3 separate regions of the Homo sapiens genome follow, and all the other regions are linked to region 3. Evidence: fine-mapped QTL for protein levels in blood plasma. A gene starts in region 3. Each other region holds a variant in brackets. All regions are shown on one strand. Distances are between the middles of the regions.

Region 1 (8,185 bases), 23 kb before region 3:
GGCTGAAGTTTCATTTAGGATTTAAAGAAAGAGAAGTTACTGCACAGTCTGAAAACTGCAGTCTTCAGATCAAACTTAGCTCTGGGACAAGTTCTATAAGCTATTTTTTGCCCTCAAAAGAGGAAAGGCCAAAATATTCCAGCCTGTATTCAACACATGCTGACTACCAGGAAAGAGATGTAATGCTGAGGCTCAGATGATGACCGACATATTATGCTTCTGGGGTCTACAATCCAAAAGACCATCCTACCCTCCTGATAGACATGGGATCCTAAAATTTAAGTGGGGAAAATATATATGTGACGAAATTGTTAGGAATCTAAAAGCAAGGTTCTGACTGAAAATGGCAAACTTATGACAAGTTGGGTTTTGTCCCCTTCATTTGCTTCACAGCCTAATCGTATAGCAAAAGCAAGTGCTCCAACAGTCAGGAGTCTCGTCCCATCTGTCCTCAAAAACAACTAGCCTCTTGTTTGGATCAATGTTGCCAAACCTCTCTAAACTCAAATTTCTCATTTGTTAAATGACAAGGTCAAACAAAGTCCCTAGGAGTCAATCAGGTCTCTGATTCCACAACATTCTTCTGTTTTAAAGGTACCAGGGGAAAAGGAGGAAGAGAGATTATTCTCTCTGAATGCATTACTTCTAATGAGACGGTCAATCTCTTTTTCTATAACACGACTAGATCAAGTAGTGTTTGGTCTACAAAGGAGATTCCACAAACTACGCATTCCCATTCCTTCAGAAAACAGGGACTAGGGAAAAAGTGGTAGAGAGATCTGTGAGCAAGGAGAGAAGAGAGAAGGCTCACCATGGCCATTGCAGTAGTAGATCCATTTCTCCCGGTTCTGGGTTGGAGTCATGGATTTCTTCAGCCCTGCCTTTTCCACAATGGCACTGGGATCCTGCCGGGGCCCCTTTTTCAGAGTCCTCGAGCTTTTCCGGATACTGCACACCACAATCACCACAAGCACCAGCAGCAGGAAAAGCACAATCATCCAGGGCAAATGCTCATTGATGTCAAAATGCTTGTGTAGGTTCTGTCTAGGATGTCCCCTCTTGGGGCCCTTGATGGGCGTGCTGGACTTCTCGCCCCCAGTGGCCTCCATGGACGGCAGCAGCTTCAGGATGTGTCTGTGGTGGGGGCCTTGCTGGTGGTTGACTACCTGAAGGTTTGGGAGGGTCTTGTTCACGTCTTCCTTCCCCCTTGCTGAGCTTGTGTTGTCAGGGACTGTCCCTTCCTGGATGCTACTCAGTACCTTTGGTCTAACAGAGGCAGAAGAGTTGGATTCTGTTGAGTTCATGCCTAGAAAAAAGAGTAAGGAGGGGGGAAGAGCTTTTCCATATTTGGGGATCTATACATTCCCTCCTTTCCCTGGTCATCTCCAAGCTAGGCCAGATAATCAAAGATAAGATGACCCTTGGGGCTTAAGAATAAATTGTGTTGCACATTTTCATAAAGACCCTAATGGCACCTTCATGTGGAAGGCAAAAATGGAACTGAACCACTAAACTCACATTCTTACACCAAAACCAAGGGCAACCTTAAGGATCCAACAGCTGAGCTTGACAGCAGCTTCTCCTGTACTTCACATATTGAGCAGGCACATATATGTGCAGAGATCTAATCAATTCTTATTTTGAGTTTTCAGAGAACCAGTTCAAATTTAATTATTTTGTCCATCCTCCTTCTCCCACCTTTTGACTATTTTATGATGCAGTGGTAAAACTGAGAATATGACTAAGATAAAAAAAAGAATTCAAATGCAAATTTGACTGGTGAAAGACTTGGTAGGACAGGTCAGCAAATAAGAGCATCTGTTATCAAAAGATTAAACAAGATTTGGGCTGGCAGCTTAGCAGACTTCTCTCAGAGAAGCCTCCATAAGTAATTTTCATTAAGAAGTATGAGAGATGGGAATTTTGAGTCCCAAGAGACAGGACTTGGCCTAAGCAAAGCTAGAGTGGCCATCTGAGCTCTTGGAGGCTGTTTCTTCATTTCAACTGGCAATTGTAAGATGGCTGTCTTCACAGGCTTATCATGAAGGCTAAATGTAATCATGCATGAGAGGACACTAGGAGGAACAACTCAAGTTGGTCATCATCTCATGAAAATTACATTAAATCAAAAAGGATTTGAAAATAAAGGATAAATTTTATATTCTGCTTGAGGTTCTGATGGAAAACTTGAATAATTGATATAAGGAGTAAAGTTAAAATCATTTGGAAAAAATAAAGTTATTATTTTCCAGACATGAGTGCTAGTTACCTTCAATCTGATACAAATTTGCTTATTTCCTGAGCTTCTAACTTTCCTACCCATTCTTTGCCCCACCTGGATTCAAAATTCATCTCTCGCTTCCGGATGTAATGGTATTTTCTTCCTTTCTCCCTCTTCTCTGCTCCTGGCTATGTCTACCTGGGACTGACTCCATGTTGGAAAACTTTTGATCTGGAAGGAACCTTAAACATCTAAATTATTCATTTGTTTGACAAGTTTGAAACTGAGGCCTGAAGAGGTTAAGTAACTTACATAAGGTCACACGCTGTCCTTGTTTCTCTTGGTTCATATTTTATAGCTTGATGTGACCTAGTTTTTAGATATCTGATCTCCCCTAACAGAAAAATTCTGAGTCTACATGTTTCTATTAAGTCCAAAAAAGCCAGATTTAATTAGCCACCATATGAAGGCCTCTCTCCAAGGGGTGACTTTGGAATACACGAAATGGAGAAAACATCTTTGGTATAAGCCCACTCTTGGTACCTCCACTGGGCTCAAAGCCTTCCTCAAATAAATAATTCATGAGGTTAAGTTACCTTTGGGAACATAAGTGGAGGAAGGGACTTCATGGGTTTCCATGTGCTCAGGGCGTGGAAAGATGGCTGTGCCAGGGGAAGGTGAGGTGGAGCTGGAGAAGGACGGGAGTGTGCCACAGACGTTGTCTGTCTCCTTGGTCCCCGGCTTGATCACCACCAGGTTCTGACTCAGACAGTCTGTGTATGCTTTGCATTTCATCACACTAGAAGGCACATCTGAGAAGGTACCCCGAGCACACTGCTTACACCGCACATCCTCAGTCTCTGTCCCTTTCTTCCGCACACCCCAACCCACAGGACACACCGTATGGGGGGCACAGGTAGCGTTAGACTGGAACATGCCAGGTGGGCAAGTGCATTCTCGGTCAGTCAAGGCAGCACAAGGTAATTTCTCAATCATTGGCCATGGGCATGGCTGACTACAGTCATGGCATTTCTCTATGCCATTCTCATGCCTGGTAAAGGTCCCCACAGGGCAACTGCTGCAGACGCGCAGGCTTGTGTTGGTACAATGCTCAGAGACATAGGTTCCTGCTGGACACTTGTCACAGGTTAGCACCTGGC[C/T]GGTGGCACGGTCAACATGGCGGTATGTGCCAATGAGATTCGAGGCCTTCTGTTCTGGCTGAGCTGTGGTGGTGCTAAGGAATCCAAGCTGAAAGAAACAGAAGGGGAGGGAAAGGAACAAAAACCAAGAAGATGTTACATAGGAGCAGAGCAGAAAAAGGGCCAACAATTCCAGCACCACCATCATCATTCCTGTTAAAGATCCGACCAGGACTGCATCCTCTTGACAGCATGCTGCAACACAGTAGAACGAGAGAAACGAAGACTTGGATCCCACCCTACAGCTTGATCTACTGGCTGTGATGCTTTGGTTTCACTGCCTGACCTTTGCCTCAGCTTCCTTTTTTTCCATTTGTAAAATGAAACTGACAATGCATCTCAAATTGATTATAAAAATCAGTTGAGAATATGTATGTGAAAACACTTTGTAGCTGAGATTTAAAATGTTATATATGGCTGGGCGCACTGGCTCACACCTGTAATTTTTGCATTTGCAAAATTTGCAATTTGCAAAATTTGCCTTACATCACATCTGTAATTTTTGCACACCTGCATTTTTAGAGGCTAAGGCACGCAGATCACCTGAGGTCAGGTGTTCGAGACCAGCCTGGCTGACATGGTAAAACCCCATCTCTACGAAAAATAAGAAATTAACTAGGCTTGGTGGTGCATGCCTGTAATCCCAGCTACTCAGGAGACTGAGGCATGATAATCGCTTGAACCCAGGAGGTGGAGGTTGCAATGAGCCAAGATCAAACCATTGCACTCCAGCCTGGGTGACAAGAGTGAAACTCTTTCTCAAAAAAAAAAAAAAAAAAAAAAAAAAAGAAAAGAAAAATTGTATACTAGTCAAAATCCAAATGCAACAGGAAAATAACTTGCTGACTTTTTAACATTGGGTATTTTATTCATTTAAGGATAAGGGAGCTAATTAAAAAAAAAACTTGCCCTGTTCTTGTCTTTAGAAGATGTATTTTAATAAAAAATGTACTCTTTCTATTTAAGAATTATTTATCACAGATTTGTAAAATACTTTGTTTAGCTTAGTTCTATACTATAAAACTGAAATGGTAACTAAACCTGTAAGAAATCAGTTGAAATTTACATTTCAAATTTATACACATATTTTGTGGCTCAAGTCATGTATGCTACTCTTATAACTGACAAAGGGGTTGTGGACAGAATATGTAAAGGACTCCTAGAAAATCAACACAAGATAAAAATGGGTGAAAAACTTGAGCAGGCATTTTATAAAAGTGAATATTCAAATAGCCAATAAAGGACAAAAACGTAAAACTTCATTATTAATTAAGGAAATGCATATTAAAACCATATTGAAATAGTACTATATACTCCAGAATGGCTAAAGTTAAAAAGACTATCTGATAAAATTAAGTCTTGGTGAGTATGAGAAGCAACTGGAATTCTCATACATTTCTGATAAAGGCATAAATTGCAACACACACTTTGAAAGCTGGTTGGTACTCTTTACAGAAGTTGAAAATGTATACGCTATGACCCAGAAATCCTACTCCTAGTATATACACACATGCCTAATGGAAATGTGTATATATGTGCACCAGAAGGTATGCAACAACGCTTATAGCAAAACTATTTAAAACATTCCCAAGGTGGAAACAGCACACGTTTGTTGGCAGAAAGGATAAATAATTGTCATTTGGTCATATAATGCATTATACAACAATGAAAATGAACTAATACAGCTCCACATAGTAACATGGATAAATCTTACAAACGTAATGTTGAGTAAAGGAAGTCAGGCACAAAATGTACACATTGTATCATTCCAACTGCTTGTTTGAAAACAGAGCTAATCTCTGTGTTACACTGCTTTGGAGAGTGGAGAGAAGGTACAGTGATTAGAGGAGGGCATGAGGGGTGAGTTCTAGGGTGTTGGCAACGCTCCGTAACTTGATCTGGATGCTGGTTACTGGAGTGTGTTTGCTTTGTCACAGATCGTTGAGCTGTACACATAAAATCTGTATACCCTTTTTAGTGTCTCTAAGTAAATAAATAAATAAAAATAAAGCGGTAGAAACAAACATAAAAAAAAAAAAGAAAAAGAAAATAACTTGCTGAATAGTTCTCTTCCTTTCCCCAACCCCAATGTTAAGCTGCCATTTCATGATGCTAGGACAAGGCAACTGGGAACCAGGAAGGCATGCATTCAAGCTGCCAGTTCCATGCACCAGATTGCCTGCTTGGCATTACCTGACAGTCATGGCCTGATTTTTTCAGACGCTTTGCCTACATGAAGCTAAACTTTTATTTATTTGTCAAAACAGAGGCGGGCCCTTGGCATTTTTGTAATGTGCTTTAAACAACAGAGTTGATGCTTTCAGATTCACACCCTGTTTGCTCAGCCTTTGAAGACCATAGCTACGAAAGCATGGGCCTGCAGCCACCCAGGAGAGGAAGCACAAAGCTAGACCCAGCAAGAGGGAATCAACAGGCACTTAGGGGAAAGGAAATTATATTCATGGGACTAAATCCTGAGGTCCTTCTGAGAAGAGACTGGGGGAGAATAAGAATATTAAGAGAAAGTTTTTCTGCATTAATGAATATTGAAAAGTTCCAACAGTTTTCACTATCCTTTATGAAATGCACAAAGTTTATGTGTCAAGGAAATAATGGCTGCCTCAAACTACCAGCTACTCAGCAGGGCAAATTCCTTCTAAATTGGCTGCTATACCAGTGACTAAGAGAATAAATCAAGAATTTTTTTCACAGTGATCAGAGTTTCTGTCTTTTTAGCACCTTGACACTTAATTCAAGGTTCAATTCTCTCCTACCCCAAAATTTAACTATTTGAATCAAAAGTATTTCCCTGAAGTCCCTTCCCCTGTCCCAGAGCTGCCTATCTAGTTAAATAACAATACAGAAAACAAATTTTCAGCTTATGAGGGTATATTCATTTTTTCTGTCGAGACCCTCCCCCAACAAAAAAAGGACAGTTGTTGATTCTTTTGTTAAGAAACTTAACCTCATCTTAGAACCTGGAAAAAACCTCCTGCTTGATGATAAATTCTGTAATGTCTTCCCTTATCCCTTCTGACTTTACCTTTCATTTTCTTGTTCCTTCTATTTGAAAATAAGCCTCAGACACCTTTTTCTGAGCACAGCGGATGCACTGGATAAAAGGACCCATCCTGTGGAACCCAAGTTACATTTGTCAAGAATACCAGCCGGGCACGGTGGCTCATGCCTGTAATCCCAGAACTTTGGAAGGCCAAGGTGGGCAGGTCATTTGAGGTCAGGAGTTCAAGACCAGCTTGGTCAACATGGTGAAATCCCGTCTCTACTAAAAATACAAAAATTAGCCAGATGTGGTGGAGCATGCCTGTAATCCCAGCTACTTGGGAGGCAGAGGTGGGAGAATTGCTTGAGCCTGGGAGGCGGAGGTTGCAGTGAGCCGAGATTGCGCCACTTTACTCCACCCTGGGCGACAGAGTGAGACTCCATCTCAAAAAAAAGAAAAAGAAACAAAAGAGTATCAACGACAGGATTAGACCCTATCTCCCTACTAAACACCCAACCCAAGAGGTTGCAAAAGTGGCTCTGCTCTGTACTTCGTGGCATGTCTACATGCAAAAGCAGTTTTAGACAGCTACAGTGTTCTGAAAGTTTGAAAGCTGTATTAGTAACCCAAGTGGCAGGTTGTTACACTTCAATTAAGAAAGAAGAGAACTGAACCCAAGATCTGGGCAGGGAGCGGTGGTCGGCGATGAATATCACTCTGATGTGCTGTGTGATCTAAGTCAGCCTCCCTACCTGTGTGGGAGGATGGGCAGTCAGACACACCCACACACACACTCACAAGGGTGGCTCTGCAGAATGAGCACAGGAGGTCATGAATAGCAAGTATGTGTGGATTTGGGTGTGGAGTTGGGGTAGGCTTCCTACAGCTTTCTATACTTCCCCCGAAATATGCACTTCTAAATCTAAAGTAAAACCAAAAAAGGTTTTCCTAGCTATACATAAAACCCACCTCCAAACCCCACAGCCCCAACACTCTTTCTCAGACTGTAAGTGGATTTTAGAGCTCTTTGTTCATTTGGAATAACAGATCAAGTTTCTAATTAAAGCAAAACTCGGCCCTGTTTAAACTGTTTCATACTGGGTAACCCACTTTAGACAATGTGTCTCTAAAAAAGGACCTTTAAATTACCTCATACAACAAGAGACAATTCCAGCTCCCGCAAGCAGAGCCAACAAACAATGATCCCTCCACAGTCGGGCCCAGGCTGAACACTAGAAATGAGATTTAGCAAAAACTAGACACTATGAATTCACTGGACAAATAATTATTGAAGACCTAATAGGTGTGTGCAAGACAGCATGCCATGGGCTGAGGATAGAATCTTGAGAACTCTATTCCAGCCCTTATGAAGTTTACATTCTAGGCTGGGATGAACAAAAAAAGAATACACCAGTAATTACTCAATTAGAATTGAAATCACTGCTGAGAAAGAGAAATACAGAATCCTATGAGAGGGAATTGAACAGGTGCTTCCTAGCTCAGGGAAGTTAGAGAAACATTTTGTCACCACTCTTAAGGATGGAGAGGCAGAAATTAACTCCAGGCAAGAAGCAGTGAAAGAGGGTTAGGCAGAGGGAACACCAGATCAAAAGTGTGAAGCAGAAGGAAGCTCAGCACAGGAACTAAAAAGCTTGTGGCTCTATCTCAAGATGCAACAGAGTGGCCACAGTTACATCTGAAGAGTCTCCATGTGCTGATCTTAATTCAAAATGCAATGAGAAGTCATTAAATGTTTACATGATA
Region 2 (8,158 bases), 650 kb before region 3:
TTCTAATGCTTCCCTTAGGCATGTGCTGTGGTGCTTGAATGTTGTACTTTAAGAAGCTTCGCGAGCTGTCATTCCTCTGTAGGAATCATTTTCCTTTTCATGAGGATGACCTTTTTAAAAACGTAATCTGTTTTCCATCCTTACTGAGATCATCTCTGTGGTTTATAGTCTTACACAGCCACACTGTCATTATCTTGTGGGTCCAAGTTGTGGACCTACCTTGTGGGACTTCCGTTATTAACCTGCCACTCACAGAGCATCGACTACTTGACCTCTTTGAGTGTAATTCATCTATACTGTTTACCTTGCAGGATTCTGAGAAGTCAATAATATATGATTGCTAAACCCAAGGCAGGACACCCATTAGTTGCGACATTTTTATAATTCCTACAATACCAGGGACTGTGGATATATATTTGAAAAGACCCAGTTCTGACCTTCTTACAGGCTGCTGGGGAGACAGAGAAAGACAATTATAATGTGCTACTTGTTATAATGAAGATATTATTAGGTGTCATAAAAGCATAGAAGAGCAGTTACATCTGCCTACATGAGTAAGAAAAAACTTTAAGAGGCCATCTAGAGTGGAATGATGATGCCCTTGAATGAGCAAGTAGCGTTTATTCCAAGGATTTTGTGAGTAGTATACTCATGTGTTTCCTGTGAAGCCTTAACTGTGTATTTTAAGATTACCCTTACATTTTCTTGCCTGTTACAAAAAAATAAAAAGAACAGTTCTGATGCGTTATCATTTGTAAATGTTAGTTGGTCCTATTTTAAGAGTTTATTTTTTAATTCTAGCATAGCCAGCCATGATCAGTTGTTTCGTGCTCTTCCATTTTTGCCTTTTAGCCCCTCTATTTTTTAATGTCTCTCCTTTCGAAAATGATGGAGAATTTTTACTTTTCATTGTTTTTACTGAAATAAAATTCATCAGCTTAAAAAGATCTAAAAGCAGATTGCTGAATGATATTTCCAGGTTTTATTTTTAATTGATGTGTCCCCCTCTGACTCAATGGCTTTTATACAGGACTATTCCTCGTTAAAAATTCATGGAGAGAATTGTGTGTGGAGAATGGATGGGAATCAAAATGTGGGATGGTTTTAAGTACAAACCACTTCAGGAACCTGAAGCATCATTTAACAAACCAGCGAGAAAACAAAACTTATTTTGAAAGACATAATCTGTGTAATATGGAGAAATCTATTAAGATTTTTCAGGTTTCATATGTCAATAAAATATTGCTTGAAGTCTATGCAAGCTACTTCTGTTCTAGGGAAACTGTCAGCAAGATACTAACTTTTCCAAAAACCAGTGGTAAGATTTAATATTCACTTCCCTTCCCCACATTGTTTTCTCTTGGAAAAGGTATACTAAGGTTTTGTGTCAGGTGGTGGTCATTGAAAAGTCTTATATAATGTAAGTAATGTTCATGAACTTGTCTGAATGTTATTATTTTAATTATTCAGGACGTTTTCTGTATAAGGTTATGAGCTCTATCTTCCTTATGTAGGCCGTTTAGCTTAACTGTATTAAGGTAAAAGGTCTGTATCTAATTTAAAACTTAAAACCAAAAAATTTTTCCAAAATACAGTTAGTACTTGTAAGGAGGCCATGAGTAGGCGATGCATATAATTTAGTGCTGGAAAAATAATTCCATATATGCTTTAATTGAAAGGATATTGAGCTTATGACCCTTGCATATAAAAGACAACATTATAAACTCCATTACATCTTCTGTATCTCAAACATTATGTCAGTCATTCATCTGCATGTGAACATCACCCACGAAATTATAGAGTTCAGCTTCATCTAGCATTTGTTATAGTACATAAGAATATATAGTGCAGTATTCTAATGTTACATTAGATCTCAAATAATCATGGCTGCAGTCAAGAGGATAGCACACAATATGGTACTTTAAATTATTTCCCATTGAAAAGCAAAAATTAATGACTAACAGATATTAAAGTTAAATTTCTGAATAGAAAGAACCCAAGGCTTGTCATTTTAATTTTTATTGTTAATGTTTGTTTTTTTTTTTTTTTTTTTTTTTTTTTTTTTTTTTTTTGCTAGTGATCCAGGATGCTCTTGCGTAGTGATTCTTAAATTTGGGACTGTGTGAGAATCAAGTTTCTAAACCCTCTTCAACCTACTGAATTAGAATCCATGGGCACGGGGCTAGGAAATTTCTAATTTTTAAAATCTCCCTAGCTGATTCTGATATATTCTAAAATTTGAGAACAACCAGTCTTGGGAAAATATTACTCCTATGATTTTAGATTTTTGTTTGTTTCTCTGAATGTTGTGGGTTTTTCCCTGCATTTGTGTTTTTGTTAGCAACCTTTCCCCTGGATCTCACAAAAACTCGACTCCAAATGCAAGGAGAAGCAGCTCTTGCTCGGTTGGGAGA[C/T]GGTGCAAGAGAATCTGCCCCCTATAGGGGAATGGTGCGCACAGCTCTAGGGATCATTGAAGAGGAAGGCTTTCTAAAGCTTTGGCAAGGAGTGACACCCGCCATTTACAGACACGTAGGTATTTATCTTGATTCTAGCTGGTAAGTTTGTTATGAGTTCTGTGTTTGTCTCCTGTGCTTTTCTGTTTGTCCAAAAACAAGTTAGTTTTTTTATCTTACTGATACAATAACTGAACACATACAGCACATAGTCTTTTTTTATTATTATTTAGGTTTTTTTTTTGAGATGGAGTCACACTCTGTCGCCCAGGCTGTAGTGCAGTGGCGCCATCTCAGCTCACTGCAACCTCTGCCTCCCAGGTTCAAGCGATTCTCCTGACTCAGCCTCCTGAGTAGCTGGGACTACAGGTGCACGCCACCACACCCAGCTAATTTTTTTTTTTTTTTTTTTAGAGAGTCTCGCTCTGTTGCCCAGGCTGGAGCACAGTGGTGTGACCCTGGCTCACTGCAACCTTTGTCTCCCGAGTTCAAGCGATTCTCCTGCCTCAGCCTCCTGAGTAGCTAGGATTACAGGCACATGCTACCAAACCTGGCTAATTTTTGTATTTTTAGTAGAGATGGGGTTTCACCATGTTGATCAGACTAGTCTCAAACTCTTGACCTTGTGAAATTTTTGTATTTTTAGTAGAGACGGGGTTTCACCATATTGATCAGGTTGGTCCCAAACTCCTGACCTCAGGTGATCCACCTGACTTGGCCTCCCAAAGTGCTAGGATTACAGGCGTGAGCCGCCGTGCCCAGCCAGAACACATATAGTCTCTTAAGAAGAAAAAAATTAACTACTGATTATTATTAAGAAGTTACTGTCCTAAATTTTTAGAAACGCATACTCACGTATTTAGGGATGAACTGTCATGAAATCTGTAAACCACTTTAAAATATTTAATTAAGCAAAAAACAATGAAGCAAGCCAGATACAGTGGCTTATGCCTATAATCCCAGCAGTTTGGAAAGCCGAGGCGGGATAATTGCTTGAGCCCAGGAGTTCGAGACCAGCCTGAGCAAGATGGCAAGACCCTGTCTCTACAAAGAGTAAGAAAATTAGCCAGGCCTGGTGGCACATGACTGTAGTCCCCACTACTTGGGAGGCTGAGGTGTGAAAACAGCTTGAATCCAGGAATTCAAGGTGGCAGTGAGCTTTGATCCTGCCACTGCTCTCCAGCCTGGGTAACAAAACAAGACCCCATCTCTAAAAATATTAAATTGGGCCGGGTGCTGTGGCTCACACCTATAATCCAGCACTTTGGGAGGCACAGGTGGGTGGATCACCTAAGGTCAGGAGTTCGAGACTAGCCTGGCCAACATGGTGAAACCCTGTCTCTACTAAAAATACAAAAATTAGCCGGGCCTAGTGGCGCATTCCTGTAATCCCAGCTACTCAAGAGGCTAAGGCAGGAAAATCGCTTGAACCCAGGAGGCAGAGGTTGCAGTGAGCCGAGATCATGCCATTGCACTCCAACCTGGGTGACAAGAGCGAAACTCTGTCTCAAAAAAATAAAAAATACAAAATAAATTTAAAAAGTTAGAAAATTAAGGAAATATGGCAAAAATGTTAGCAGTTAATAAATCTCAATGGTAGAGATAGAGGGAGTTACATATTATTTACTTTTCAGTGTTTGAAAATTTTCTTAATAAAAATTTGTATAGGTTTAAGAAAGAAAAAGTGAATAGCTGATTATCATTTTTCTTCACTTAAGAACTTTAAACACAGAATTTAAATTTTTCATATTTTTTGAAAATTAACATATATTTATTACAGTGCCAAATCTCATGAGTCCCTGTCTCATAATCTAAGACCAGGCTACTCTGAAAGAGGACAGAGTTCACTGCCTAATCCAACACTGGCTGTAGTGTAAATGCAACACAGGTGATTTTTGCCCCAGTTCCAAGGCTACCTAACTAGCTATGTGGGCCTTAGTCACCCTTAAAGGAAGATGGTTGCAACTATGCCAGTTAGAACATTTTTCTGCTCTGCTTCCACAGTGGCACTCACAAGAGGAGGACTTGATTTTATAGCTTGTGTACAGGAGAATATAAAGTTGGCTTCAAAGGAGGTAGGATAGGTTTGGCATTTTTCTCCTCATAATGTTTCCTGAAGCATGAAAGGATCCTTGATCAGAAGAGTGCTCAGTTCTAATTTCTAAAATTTGCTGGCTTAATATTTTTAAAGATTCAATTCTCCATATGAGTAAGTTAGCGTGTATCATCAAAAACTATCTAGAACTGTGTGCAGAGACTGTTACTGGTTTTCCAAGTTGTATATTTTTGAGTATCTTAAAATATTTCATCAACTTTCTAAAACATCAAGAAAAGCTCTCTATACAAATACCATGGTTGATTTTAATTATTTTGTTTTCCATCCTTTTAAAAATATTTTCTGCTTTGCATCCCATTATTATTTTGAGTTTCTTTTCATTTGTAGTTTGTTGTTCATTGTGTTGTTTTACAGCTAAGATTCATTTCATACGTTTGATGCTTAGCTGAAAAATTACAATAAATTCTCCAATGAAATTATGTATCTTTATTTAATGAAAATGCCTGCTGCGTACCAAGGTATGTACTAGGGCATCTGGGGTAAGTAAAAACAAACACATAGAGCCTGCCTGGAGAAGCTCATGGTCTGATGGAAAGATAAGCAAGAAGAGTTAATTTCTAATCAATATGATAAAAAGGTCAGAGAGCAGTTTCTGAAAAACATGTTTTTGAGTTGAGTCCTGAAAGACAAGGAGATGTTAGTAAAGCAGAGAAGGGAGAATTCATTCTAGAAAGATCAGACAGTGTGTGGGAAGGGCAGAGTCTGAAAAGAGCATGCCCCATTTGGAGAAGCATCAAGAAGCCCACGTGTTAGAAGCACCGGCCCCATGAGACAAAGACACAGCTAGAGAGATTGACTAGGCCATGTCGGAATGTCCTCTTATTTTATACATACATAAGCATATAGATACATATAGCCAAAGTTACCTTTTTAATGATCTTTTTTACCCAGTGTATTCTGGAGGTCGAATGGTCACATATGAACATCTCCGAGAGGTTGTGTTTGGCAAAAGTGAAGATGAGCATTATCCCCTTTGGTAAGTTTTGTTTGGAAAATAATATGCTGTTGCCCCAAATGCCTTAATGTTTATTAGGTTTATGTAAAATTGTACATTTGTACCCAAATTGCCTTAAGTTATGGACTTAAAATAATAATTACAATATAAGTCCAGATAATTGAGCATTTACTGCAGATGTATACAGACATACATGTATATACATATATAAATTGCATATATAGAGATATTTAGTATTTTACTGTTGAAAGAATTCTTATAGAGTACCTTTTTATTCCTCTTTTTATTAAGAACTCTCGGCTTTAGAGTCAGACAGGGATGGGCTCAAATTCCTGCTCTGCTACTGTATAACCTGGACAAACTGCTTCACCTTTTTTATCTTCAGTTTTCACAGCTATAGAAGTAATACAAACCATTAAGTGTTTTTATAGGACACGGTGAGATGATGAATGTAAGTGTATATTATTTAACGGAAACTGAAAAAATCGGTTACTAAAAATAATATACATAGAGCTCCTATAAATAAATAGAAATATAGAAAACACACGCTGGGCGGGGTGGCTCACGCCTGTAATCCCAGCATTTTGGAAGGCCAAGGTGGGCAGATTACCTGAGGTCAGGAGTTCGAGACCAGCCTGGCCAACATGGCAAAACGCTGTCTCTACTAAAAATACAAAAAATTAGCTGGGTTTGGTGGTGGGGGACTGTAATCCAAGCTACACAGGAGGCTGAGGCAGGAGAATCGCTTGAACCCAGGAGGTGGAGGTTGCAGTGAGCCGAGATTGCACTGTTGCATTCCAGCCTGGGTGACAGAGCAAGGCTCTGTCTCAAAAAATATAAAATAAAAATAAAAAATTGCATATATATATATAATTATATATATAAAATTATATAACCTCTCAGCTGGACCACTGCCATCTAACTCGTCTCCTCCTCCATCCTCAAATGTGTACCCGGTATCCAGAGTGATTTATTTGAAACACAGATATTAACACATTATTGGTGTCCTTAAAACTTGTCACTGGCTTCTAATCACCCACAAAATAAAGTGGAGATTTTGGAATGTGACTTAGAAGATCTGCAATATCTGGCCTGTGTCTTCAGAGAACTAAGCAATTCATTGATTCTCTTGGAAAGAGTGGTGCACTAATGAGCTGAAAGATTCCACTGCCTGCACATACCAAACTGTTCTTCACCTCTGTGTCTGTGTGTGTGTGTGTGTGTGTGTATAGAGAGAGAGAGAGAAAGCACAATAGAAAAATAAGGAAAGGATACCAATAGGCAGTTCACAAAAGAAATATACATGTTCATTAAACATAAAAATGTTCAAACTCACCAATAATCAGGGAAATTAATTAAAACTAACTTTAAGCTGTTAGTGGAAATATAAGTTACTATAGTCTTTTTGGAGCATAAATTACTTGTTAACATTTTTGAACGTGTAACCCCTTTGTGATTATAATCATTTATAAATGCTTCTACATATGCATTAAGACAGACACAAAGATATTGACTGTAGCAGTGTTGATGATAGAAAATTATTTTTTTAATTTAAACTATTGATTTGGAAGCAGTTAAGTAGGTTATGATATATTTATGGCATAACACAGCTATTGAAAGCATGAGGTGGGTTTCATATGACTAACATGGAAAGATGCCTATAAAATCTTTCTTAGGGTTAAAAAAATCTAAGTCACAGCTATAAAAAGGGGCAATATGTAGAGTTTCACCTTTCAGGCAACATTTCTTTATCTTGTTTTTGAAAAATTGTAATGTACTAAGCTATACTAATTGCTTTCCCAGAGTCAATTATGGAATAGATTTATAGTCCTTGCGTTTTGGAATTTCTTCCAGAAGGGAAAGGTTTAAGTAAAAAGTGCAAAGGAAATATTATACCAGAACTTTTAGGGTGGATAGGTTTAATGTCCTTTTGACCCAATCAGAACAATTCATTCAGTCAGTAGGTATTTATTGGGTAATTATGGTATGGTATGCCAGTCTTATACTTAATACTGAGGCTATAGTAATGAAAAAGAAACAGTCCTGCCGTCATTCAGCTTACAGTAACAGAGTCGATGAATAAACAATTAGAATTATGTAAAAAATACAGAGAAAAGAGTGGTTATGAGAGATGCAAAGAGAAAAAATATGATAATGTATGTGCTCATCATTGTGTGGAGAAACAGGTATGAGAGATGCAAAGAGAAAAAATATGATAATGTATGTGCTCATCATTGTGTGGAGAAACAGGCATTTTCACAGGTTGTTGGTGGAAGTGCAAATTGATAAAGGTTTTCTGGAAAGCAATTTGACAGGCTCTAGCAAATGTTATGTAAATGTTCAAATTTCTTAAAGTTATGTTCGTTAAATAAATTATGGCATATCCATAAAATGAAATACTGTCAAACTATTAAAAAGAATGAGGCTGCTCTATATGACCTGATAGGGATAGCCTTTAAGATATGCTGTTAAGAAAACAGTGCAGAACACTGTACAACTTGACATTCTATGTTAGCGCTTTTACAAAGGAACATTTATACAGATATGCTTGTGTATGCACAAACTGTCAGTCATAACTTAGTGTTTAAGACTGTGGGCTCTGCATGCAGGCTGTCTGGATTCACATCTTGGCTG
Region 3 (8,185 bases):
CAAAGATGCTATGAATAAATGAGATACTGTATACAAAGCACCTGGCATGTAGCAATTGCTCTCTCTATACATATACAATTGCTATATACATGTGTATATATTATATCATATTGTGTACCTATATATTTGTATTTTTATAAGCTTATAGTAAGCTATTTTTCATGCAGTTAGCCGGTCATGACAAACAAAAAGTCATAACACAAAAATGATGACAATAAATATTATCACACAAAAAGGGAGATATTTGAAAGAAGAGCATTAAAAGACATAATAAATAGAACATTTTACTGGGATTATTACTTTTTAATCTAACTGTAATACGTGGGCAGGCCACTAACTTGCCCACCTCCCCCAGTAGTGTTCTGAGTACCCTGCCACGTGTACCCAGGCTCCAGTACCTGATGTCCGTTATGTTCACATGGCCAAGGATCCCAATGGGATAAATACTTCTTGGAACAGTATCATGAGATCATCATTTTATACATTAACAAAGCCTGTGCTGTGGACTTGGGCATGCAGAATAAGAATGTGAAAGACAAAAGGCATTTCCTCCCCACCCTGGATGGGGATTATAACATAGTCTCTACTGATTCCTGGCACACCCTCCAGTCACCCTTCAGGATGAAGGGCTGAACCTCATGCCATTTCATGAATTTACCTGAAGTCTTTTTAGCATAGCTAGCAGAAGAATAAGGAATCCTGTATTGGTTATCAACTTGAGACTGCTCCTAAGCCCCATTATAAATTTTATCTTTTTCAAAGTAGCCAAACTTAAATTGTCAGGTCTTTAGTTGCAAATCCAGTGCACAATTTTTAGGGTAGGTTGAGTTTGATGACTTATTTTTTATTTTGGTTTTGGAGACAGGGTCTCACTCTGTCACTCAAGCTGGAGTGCCGTGGCATGGTCACAGCTCACTGCAGCCTCAACATCCTGGGCTCAAGCCATCCTCCCACCTCAGCCTCCTGAGTTGCTGGGCATACAGGCGCACACCACCGCCACACCCACCTAATTTCTTGTAGAGATGGGGTCTCACTATGTTGCCCAGGCAAATCTCGAACTCCTGGACTCAAGCAATCCTCCCACCCTGGCCGCCCAAAACGCTGGGATTACAGGCATAAGCCAGGGTGCCTAGCCTGATGATTCAAGAAAAGGAGCTGGGCCCTTTCTCAGTTAGTTAAGGCAACCTACCATTTGATTACATCAAGACCTTTGTTTAATTACCTACCTCATGCTAAAAGGTAAAATAAATGGAGTATTGCACAATGACTTAAGATTTAATCTGGGAATGGACTCTGTGAGGCATATAATAATCAGATGTGTTAGAAGCACCTGAAACATAGTAGTGGATAGTAGTGGATCTAAAGCTGTGAAAAAGGAAATGATGATAGTTCTCACTCCACTGAACTAGGATCAGTGTTCCCATGGACCTAGATGTGTTTCTCTCCACACCAAGACTGTCAATCCAGGTTCATTGTCCCAAGAGACTCCCCGACTACTGCTTACCATCCACCACACTTGTTTCACTTGTTTCAAAGATATAAACCTTGGCCATGCCATTAATAAGTGGGCAGAAAAGAGTTTCTGAAGGGAGACTGGGACTTGCCTCATTATAAATGCTAACAGTAACAAACTTTTATTTAGTCTCTCTCTTCCTCTTAAAACACACACACAAGGAACCAGAGTGTCTGTAGGATGAATTCCCAGGCCATAGCAACTGCAATGTCCTGAGATCTAAGCAGTTCTTGGCTGGCCAGGCGTTAAGCCCTTTTGGGGAAGGAGACAGCAAGCCTGCTTTTCCCTTACACAGCCCTGTCGTGAAAACAAGCTCTTGTTTCTTGGGGGTTTTTTTGTTCGGTTTTTAGCTAAGAATTTCCATCCCTCCTGCAGTGATAAAAGATAGGCAAGGGAAGCTCAAGGGTTTGATCTCAAATTTTCTTCCACCTAACTTGCCCCTTCACCCCAATATTTGGAAATAAAGGGAGGGAATTTGGGGGAAGTTGAGGGTAAGTTTTTGGTCAAGATGATTGACCCGAGATGTGGATGCAGCTTAGACGATGAGGGAGACTGCACCACCCTGCAGGGTCACCTGCCTAGCCACAGGTAAACGAGGGATCGGAAAGACTGTAGAAAATTCATCTTCCTTCACACACATCTCCTTCCCCCTCCCCCCATTCCAGTGCCGGCGCGCTGGCTGGCTGGAAGCCGGCGCTTTGGAGGCGCCGGAGAGTGGGTCTAAGGGTGATATTTCGGCATACAGAACCTGAGACCCCACCCGAGCCAAGAGGGAAGAGAGAGGGTAAAGGGATTGAGGAGGGGGCGGCTTGCGCCCTGCTCGGGAATGCACCGCGCGACAGCACCCGGAGGTCTCCGGTGTCCGGCGCGCACCGGTACCACTGTCTTCCACTGCGGTAGCATCCCGACATGACATTGCAGCTGCAACAAAGCGCCGGCCTCGGCCGGCCGTGGGAGCCCCACACCGCGGCGAGGCCCCACACCACGCAGAGGGGCAGTGGCCGATGGGTGGGGGGCTGTGGCTGCGGGCGTGGGGAGCGCGAGGTAGGCCGAGTAGGGGGAAAAGCCCTCAAATGCGCAGAAGCTGGGCGGCTACCTCTAGCGTCTCCTCCAGCAAAGCCAGACTGCAAGGAAAACAATTCGTCTTCATTCCCCAGCCCCGGCTGAGCCCTGAGATTCCCCCAAATAACCTAGTCGAGGCCCTCTGGTGTGTTGCCTTCCCTTGGAAACCCCTCAGTGCCCGTAACCCAGTCGGCCGGGCCCCGCGCCTCCCTAAGCCCCGGCCCGGTGACCCGCCCGGCTCCCGGAGAGCGGTTCCTTCTGCTCCGGCGCCGCCGCCACCCCCGGTCCACGCAAGCGCTCACCAGGAGAAGGGAGCCCGCGATCATCGTGGCTGTGGCTCGGCGGGCGATGCGGCTGCAGGAGGCGAGGGCGGTGCTGCTGCTCGGAGAGGTCCCCATGGCTGAACCGGGGACTCGCAGGGGCGCCCGGGGCGCGCGGGGCAGCTGGAATCGGCGGCTGCTTCTGCCCAGCGCCGCATCCACCGCCGCCTCCCGGGCCGGGAGCCCATCTACCTCCAACACCCCATGTGCACTGCTGCGGCCGGGCAGAGGAGGGAGGCGGCAAGGGAGGCTCTAGGGGCGCTCAGCACCTGCCCAGCGGCGCGGCCGCCCAGGCGGGGAGAAGCCGCCGCGACTGCAGCCCGCGTCTCCGGGTGCTCTCCTCCGACAGCGGCTGAGGAGAACCAGGGAGGAGGACTGGGCGCGAGAGAGCAAAGGAACGACTTCCCATAGCGAAGCTTCCAGCCACTGCCAACCACCCTCCTCCGCTGCCCAGACTGGTCGGCGAGGGACTGAGTCGGTGGCCACCGGGCGCAGGGACACACGTGGTGGCGCCGAAGGGGCGGGGGACCGGCCCTTTGTGATGTCACCCGGGAGGAGGCCGGGCTCTTTGTGCGGTTGGAAAGGCGAAGGCGTTCCAGGTAGAGCGGGGAGGGAGAGGGTGCCCCTTGGCGTTCGCTGAGGAAATTGCACGCGCCTGTTGACCCAGGGAAAGCGCTGAGAAAGCATCTCACTCCTGATCTAACTTTACTTATTTTTTCCGAGATAATTCCAACTAAATTATTTCAGCTACATACGCCTTTCCATTGTTTCGGACACGATGATTAAATCAGAGAGCGATGGTGAATAGACCACAGAGCACTTAGATCAACTGCGTGACGAAAAAGGAGACCTGTGTGTTGCTTCTCAAACTTTGCTGCCCTGTGGAATCACCTGGAGAGTTCAAAACATATATATTGATTCTTGGGTCCCACCTCTAGAGACTCTGATTTAATTGGAACAGGACAGGATCTGGTCTGGGCATTGAGGTTTGTTGTTGTTGTTGTTTGTTTGTTTTTTAAGTTTTCAGGGTGATTTTAATATGGGGCAAAGATTTTAATTTTTTATATTTTAATTTTAATATGGGCTTATGAATGCAATTAAGGAAATCCAAACTAAAAGGATTTAAAACCCAGAGTCATTGGTGTTGGGTCCATGGATGGTCTTGGAGGGACTTTTGAACTCCTTGAAATGTATCAAAAGATGCATTTTCCTAATTTAAAAATCAAGAGTTTTGAATCGGATTATCCCTGAGATTTTTTTTAATCACCCTTCCCCCAAAAAATAATGCTAAAAATTTTTGAGTTGATTTCCAAAGGCCTTGTCAGGATGTGGGTGGTAGAATAGGTAGTATTCTGCTTCAGAAGGAGAACTGGAATATTCTCGTGGATGTTGGTATCTCACACACTTCTGAATGTAAGAGAGCAGCTGTTATCCTTTTCTTTGTTTCACCTGGGGGAAGGCCGAGTCTCCTGACTGTGGCCACCATTTCTGGTATCGTGTTATCCATCATCTAGGTACTGACAGCACATGGCACACTGTATTGATATTACCTCTTCAGCCATCCAGTCCACACCCCTCAATTGGGAGCCCTATGGTGCTGGGCTTATCCTAGGCTCCTTTGGTCCCATTTCAAAAGAATCACACTTTTTAAACTATCAGTTTCAAGATCCAACACCCAGTGCTAATAAAGGTAACTTGCTAAGTCATAGGTACCAATTATTTGCTTTATTAGTTAACATGTTGTCCTTTGATTCTTTGCTCTATGCACACTTTGGTAGAAGCTAAAATTAATATGAGGGTTAATTCCAATCTATTATTTCAAACATTTGTCAGTATTGTCTATAAATGTTAGAGTGGGAAAAAAGCTACAATATATAACCTCTAGTGAAATTCAAAGGAGTTCTAGAAAATATTACCATTAATTATGGAGTTTTGGGGAAAGGATGATGGTTGGACTTGCCACTCTCTAGCTATTTTCAGAAGTTGAAAGAGTGAGGGATAGATGCTGTGTTTTCATGCATAACTGTATCAATTTTTTCTTCAAAAATTCAAATGACTGGCCAATACTATTATAAGGTTGGGTTGTTTTTTTTTAAGAAGTTACATAGGTATTAAAGAGGAGGAGGAGCTTCAAATACGTTTTTATTTAGTCCATTTTACTCCTTGCATCCAAACTCACATTTTTCGTGGTAATATATGATTGATTTGCTCTAAAGAGTTGGGCAACTTTAGAGTTTAGTGTCTGGGTTACTATGCAGGTATAAGAAGTTCTTCTCAACTATTTGTCTTCCTAAAACTAAAAGAAAATTGTTTATTTGTGCTTGGACCACTTTGAAACTTCATGAATTCCTGGTGTTCCATTGATCATATCAAGTTGAAATTTAATATACATTTTGAGAGATGAAAAAATTTACTCAATTCTGTTTACTACTAACATTTAAATACATGTCCCTCTATAGAGTGATAGATTATAGATAATTTGAATCTAGATGCAGTGTGAAATTTTATTACTTTGAATTGAAATGTATACATGCCTTCCATTTTGAAGTAACAATGCTGCAACCATTAAATAATTCATTGCCACATTTTCAATGTGGTAACTTAGACATGTCTGTTTTCTGGGAAAGGATAAAAATTCAATGATACATAAGGAAGTTTCTCCCAAAGTTCCAAGGAAAGAGGAGATATGTGTTGATAAATCATAATTATAGCTAAATTTTAAAGGAAGGCCTAAATGAGTTAATCCAATGTCATCTTTGCCATAAAAATTACTCTATCTCCACCCTCCATCCTACCTTTGGACTTTCTCTCTTTCTGCCAATGTTGTACAATTTTTCTAGTTTTCCAACCTCAAAAATCATTGCTAATTCTTTCCTCGTCCTTAGTACATTCCAATTAATGCTTTCCTAACCTTTCATTTTTTTCTATTTTATCTTTCTTGTTAAAAATCTGATATATACATCTGGATACTGAAGAAATCACCAGAGATTGCGCCACTGCAGTCCGCAGTCCGACCTGGGCGACAGAGCGAGACTCCGTCTCAAAAAAAAAAAAAAAAAAAAAAAAAGAAATCACCAGATTTACCATCTTGTCTTAATTATTTTTTTAACTTATCCTGCACACTTTCAGAAGGTCTAGTAAAATTTCATGTTCTTTATAATGAAAATAACAATTGTCCACATTTTGAGAAATGACTGCTGCATGACAAACATCCTGAGCCGATCTATGAGGGAATGACAGAAAGTTGGCAGGAAAATGCCAGCTCCGTTGGGGAGACCCTAACCCAGTGGCGCTAGAGGAATTAAAGACACACACACAGAAATATAGAGGTGTGAAGTGGGAAATCAGGGGTCTCACAGCTTTCAGAGCTGAGAGCCCCGAACAGGGATTTACCCACATATTTATTAACAGCAAACCAGTCATTAGCATTGTTTCTATAGATATTCGATTAACTAAAAGCATCCCTTATGGGAAACGAAGGGTGGGCTGAATTAAAGGAATAGGATGGGCTAGTTAACTGCAGCAGGAGCATGTCCTTAAGGCACAGACCGCTCAAGCTATTGTTGGTGGCTTAAGAATGCCTTTAAGTGGTTTTCCGCCCTGGGTGGGCCAGGTGTTCCTTGCCCTCATTCCTGTAAACCTGCAACCTTCCAGCTTGGGCGTTAGGGCCATTATGAACATGTTACAGTGCAAAAGAGATTTTGTTTATGGCCAGTTCTGAGGCCAGTATATGGCCAGATTTTGGGGGGCCTGCTCCCAACATGTCCCCCTTCTCTGATTTGCAAATCGATAAAAGCAAAGGCAGCTTTGTCATGGTGAGCTACTTCTCGCAGGAGTCAGGTTCCACATCTGCAGACTATACAAAGACAAACAACACAGATTAAAAGCACAAACGTCATTGAAATCACAGAGCTTCCAAGTGTTTTTATCCATTGTAATGGGTTACTAGCTGCTAATTTGTCTGTAACTCCTTCAAGCACTCCAGTTCCTGGCATTAAGGTCAGGTGTGCCTGCGATGCTTTAAACATTTGTTCTTTTAATTTTAATTCCTTATGTTAAGCTCCTAGAGCGGGCTATATCATTTGAGGCTGAGGTGCTGCTATACCACCATGGTTCCAGGTAATGGGAACTTTTGCCGTAGTTCTTATCATTTCTACCATCTGACCGTTTTGTTCAGATCATCTGAACATAGTGTGGCCGTGGCATGCAGACTGAGAGGTGCAATTCAAGCTAAACGTCCCCTTAGGGGACGAATTAATAATGATTCCATAGGAATCGTTGTGCAGCACCTCTGCCTGTTCTGCAATGCAATCTTCCTAAACAAGTACGTTCATTTTTTCTAACTGGGTCCAATCCTGTTTACAAATAGGTTTTTGTAAACCTATTCTGCCCCAATTTTTTTTGTAAACCTGATTCTGCCCCAATTTTTTTGTAAACCTGATTCTGCCCCAATTATAGGAACAGAATCAGAAATCACATTAATAGGCATATCAAAAGCAGTCAATACCTCAATTATAGCTACAAGCTCTGCTTTTTGAACTGAAGTATAGGGCATCTGAAAAACTTTACCTTTTGATCCAGAATAAGAAGATTTACCATTACTAGACCCATCTGTAAAACAATGAAAACAGGCTGCATGTTGTTTACTGCAGGAATTGTAAATGCAAACTGTTCACAGTCTTGCTCAGCTAAAGGGATAGTAAAGAAACAATCTTTTAAATCTATGACTATTAAAGCCCAATTTTTTGGAATTATAGCAGGAGAAGGCAATCCTGGCTGTAATGCTCCCATAGGTTATATAACTGAATTGATAGCTCTGAAGTCAGTTAACATTCTCCATTTACCTGATTTTTTCTTAATTACGAAAACTGGAGAATTCCAAGGAGAAAATGCTGGAGCTATGTGCCCATTTTCTAATTGTTCAGTAACTAATTTCTCCAAAGCCTCCAGTTTCTCTTTACTTAGCGGCCATTGTTCTATCCAAATTGGCTTATCTGTTAACCATTCTAAAGGTATAGGTTCTGGAGGCTTAACAATGGCTGCCATCAAAAATGATATCCTAATCTTTGGCGGGAACTTTTTAAACCTTGCAAATTTTTTTTTCTAGTCCTGTTCCGGGTACATACCCCATTTCATGAATCATATGTTGACTTTGAGGGCTATATAATTGTTCTGGAATTAGAATTTGTGCTCCCCATTGTTGTAATAAATCTCTTCCCCATAAATTTATAGGTACAGAAAGTTATAATTGGTTGAATAGTCCCAGGTTGTCCATCGGGCCCTTCACAAT

Which allele goes with the higher level. Positions count from the first base shown, and alleles are read on the strand shown. Strength reflects both the effect of a copy and how common the allele is.
As copies of C replace T in region 1, the plasma level of the protein whose gene starts at base 3,367 in region 3 goes up (strong association).
In carriers of allele C in region 2, the plasma level of the protein whose gene starts at base 3,367 in region 3 tends to be higher than with T alone (moderate association).

Evidence for each region. PIP is the posterior inclusion probability: the model's chance that the variant is causal. Protein levels are from antibody-based Olink assays in UK Biobank. Linkage for the fine-mapping came from a reference panel and not from the study's own genotypes, which makes the PIPs less certain.
Region 1: its variant is fine-mapped to the plasma level of the TNFRSF21 protein (UK Biobank, PIP above 0.99). The variant lies in the coding sequence of TNFRSF21. If it changes the protein, the assay may bind it differently, which can mimic a change of level.
Region 2: its variant is fine-mapped to the plasma level of the TNFRSF21 protein (UK Biobank, PIP above 0.99).

What each region holds. Positions count from the first base shown.
Region 1 is chr6:47,283,127-47,291,311 of GRCh38, forward strand. It overlaps TNFRSF21 (TNF receptor superfamily member 21), which reads right to left. Exons shown (of 6, transcript NM_014452.5): 2 at 2,818-3,469; 3 at 812-1,306. Among named protein-coding and RNA genes, the nearest start is that of TNFRSF21, 23 kb to the right of the region's middle. RefSeq lists an enhancer at 2,109-3,308. The variant C/T (reference allele first, on the strand shown) is at 3,382.
Region 2 is chr6:46,653,502-46,661,659 of GRCh38, forward strand. SLC25A27 (solute carrier family 25 member 27) reads left to right here. Exons shown (of 9, transcript NM_004277.5): 2 at 2,342-2,533; 3 at 5,461-5,545. Among named protein-coding and RNA genes, the nearest start is that of SLC25A27, 4.6 kb to the left of the region's middle. The variant C/T (reference allele first, on the strand shown) is at 2,415.
Region 3 is chr6:47,306,539-47,314,723 of GRCh38, forward strand. It overlaps TNFRSF21 (TNF receptor superfamily member 21), which reads right to left and starts at 3,367. Exons shown (of 6, transcript NM_014452.5): 1 at 2,878-3,367. The coding sequence starts at 2,973. RefSeq lists enhancers at 2,318-3,040, 3,204-3,383, 3,335-3,629 and a silencer at 2,834-3,063.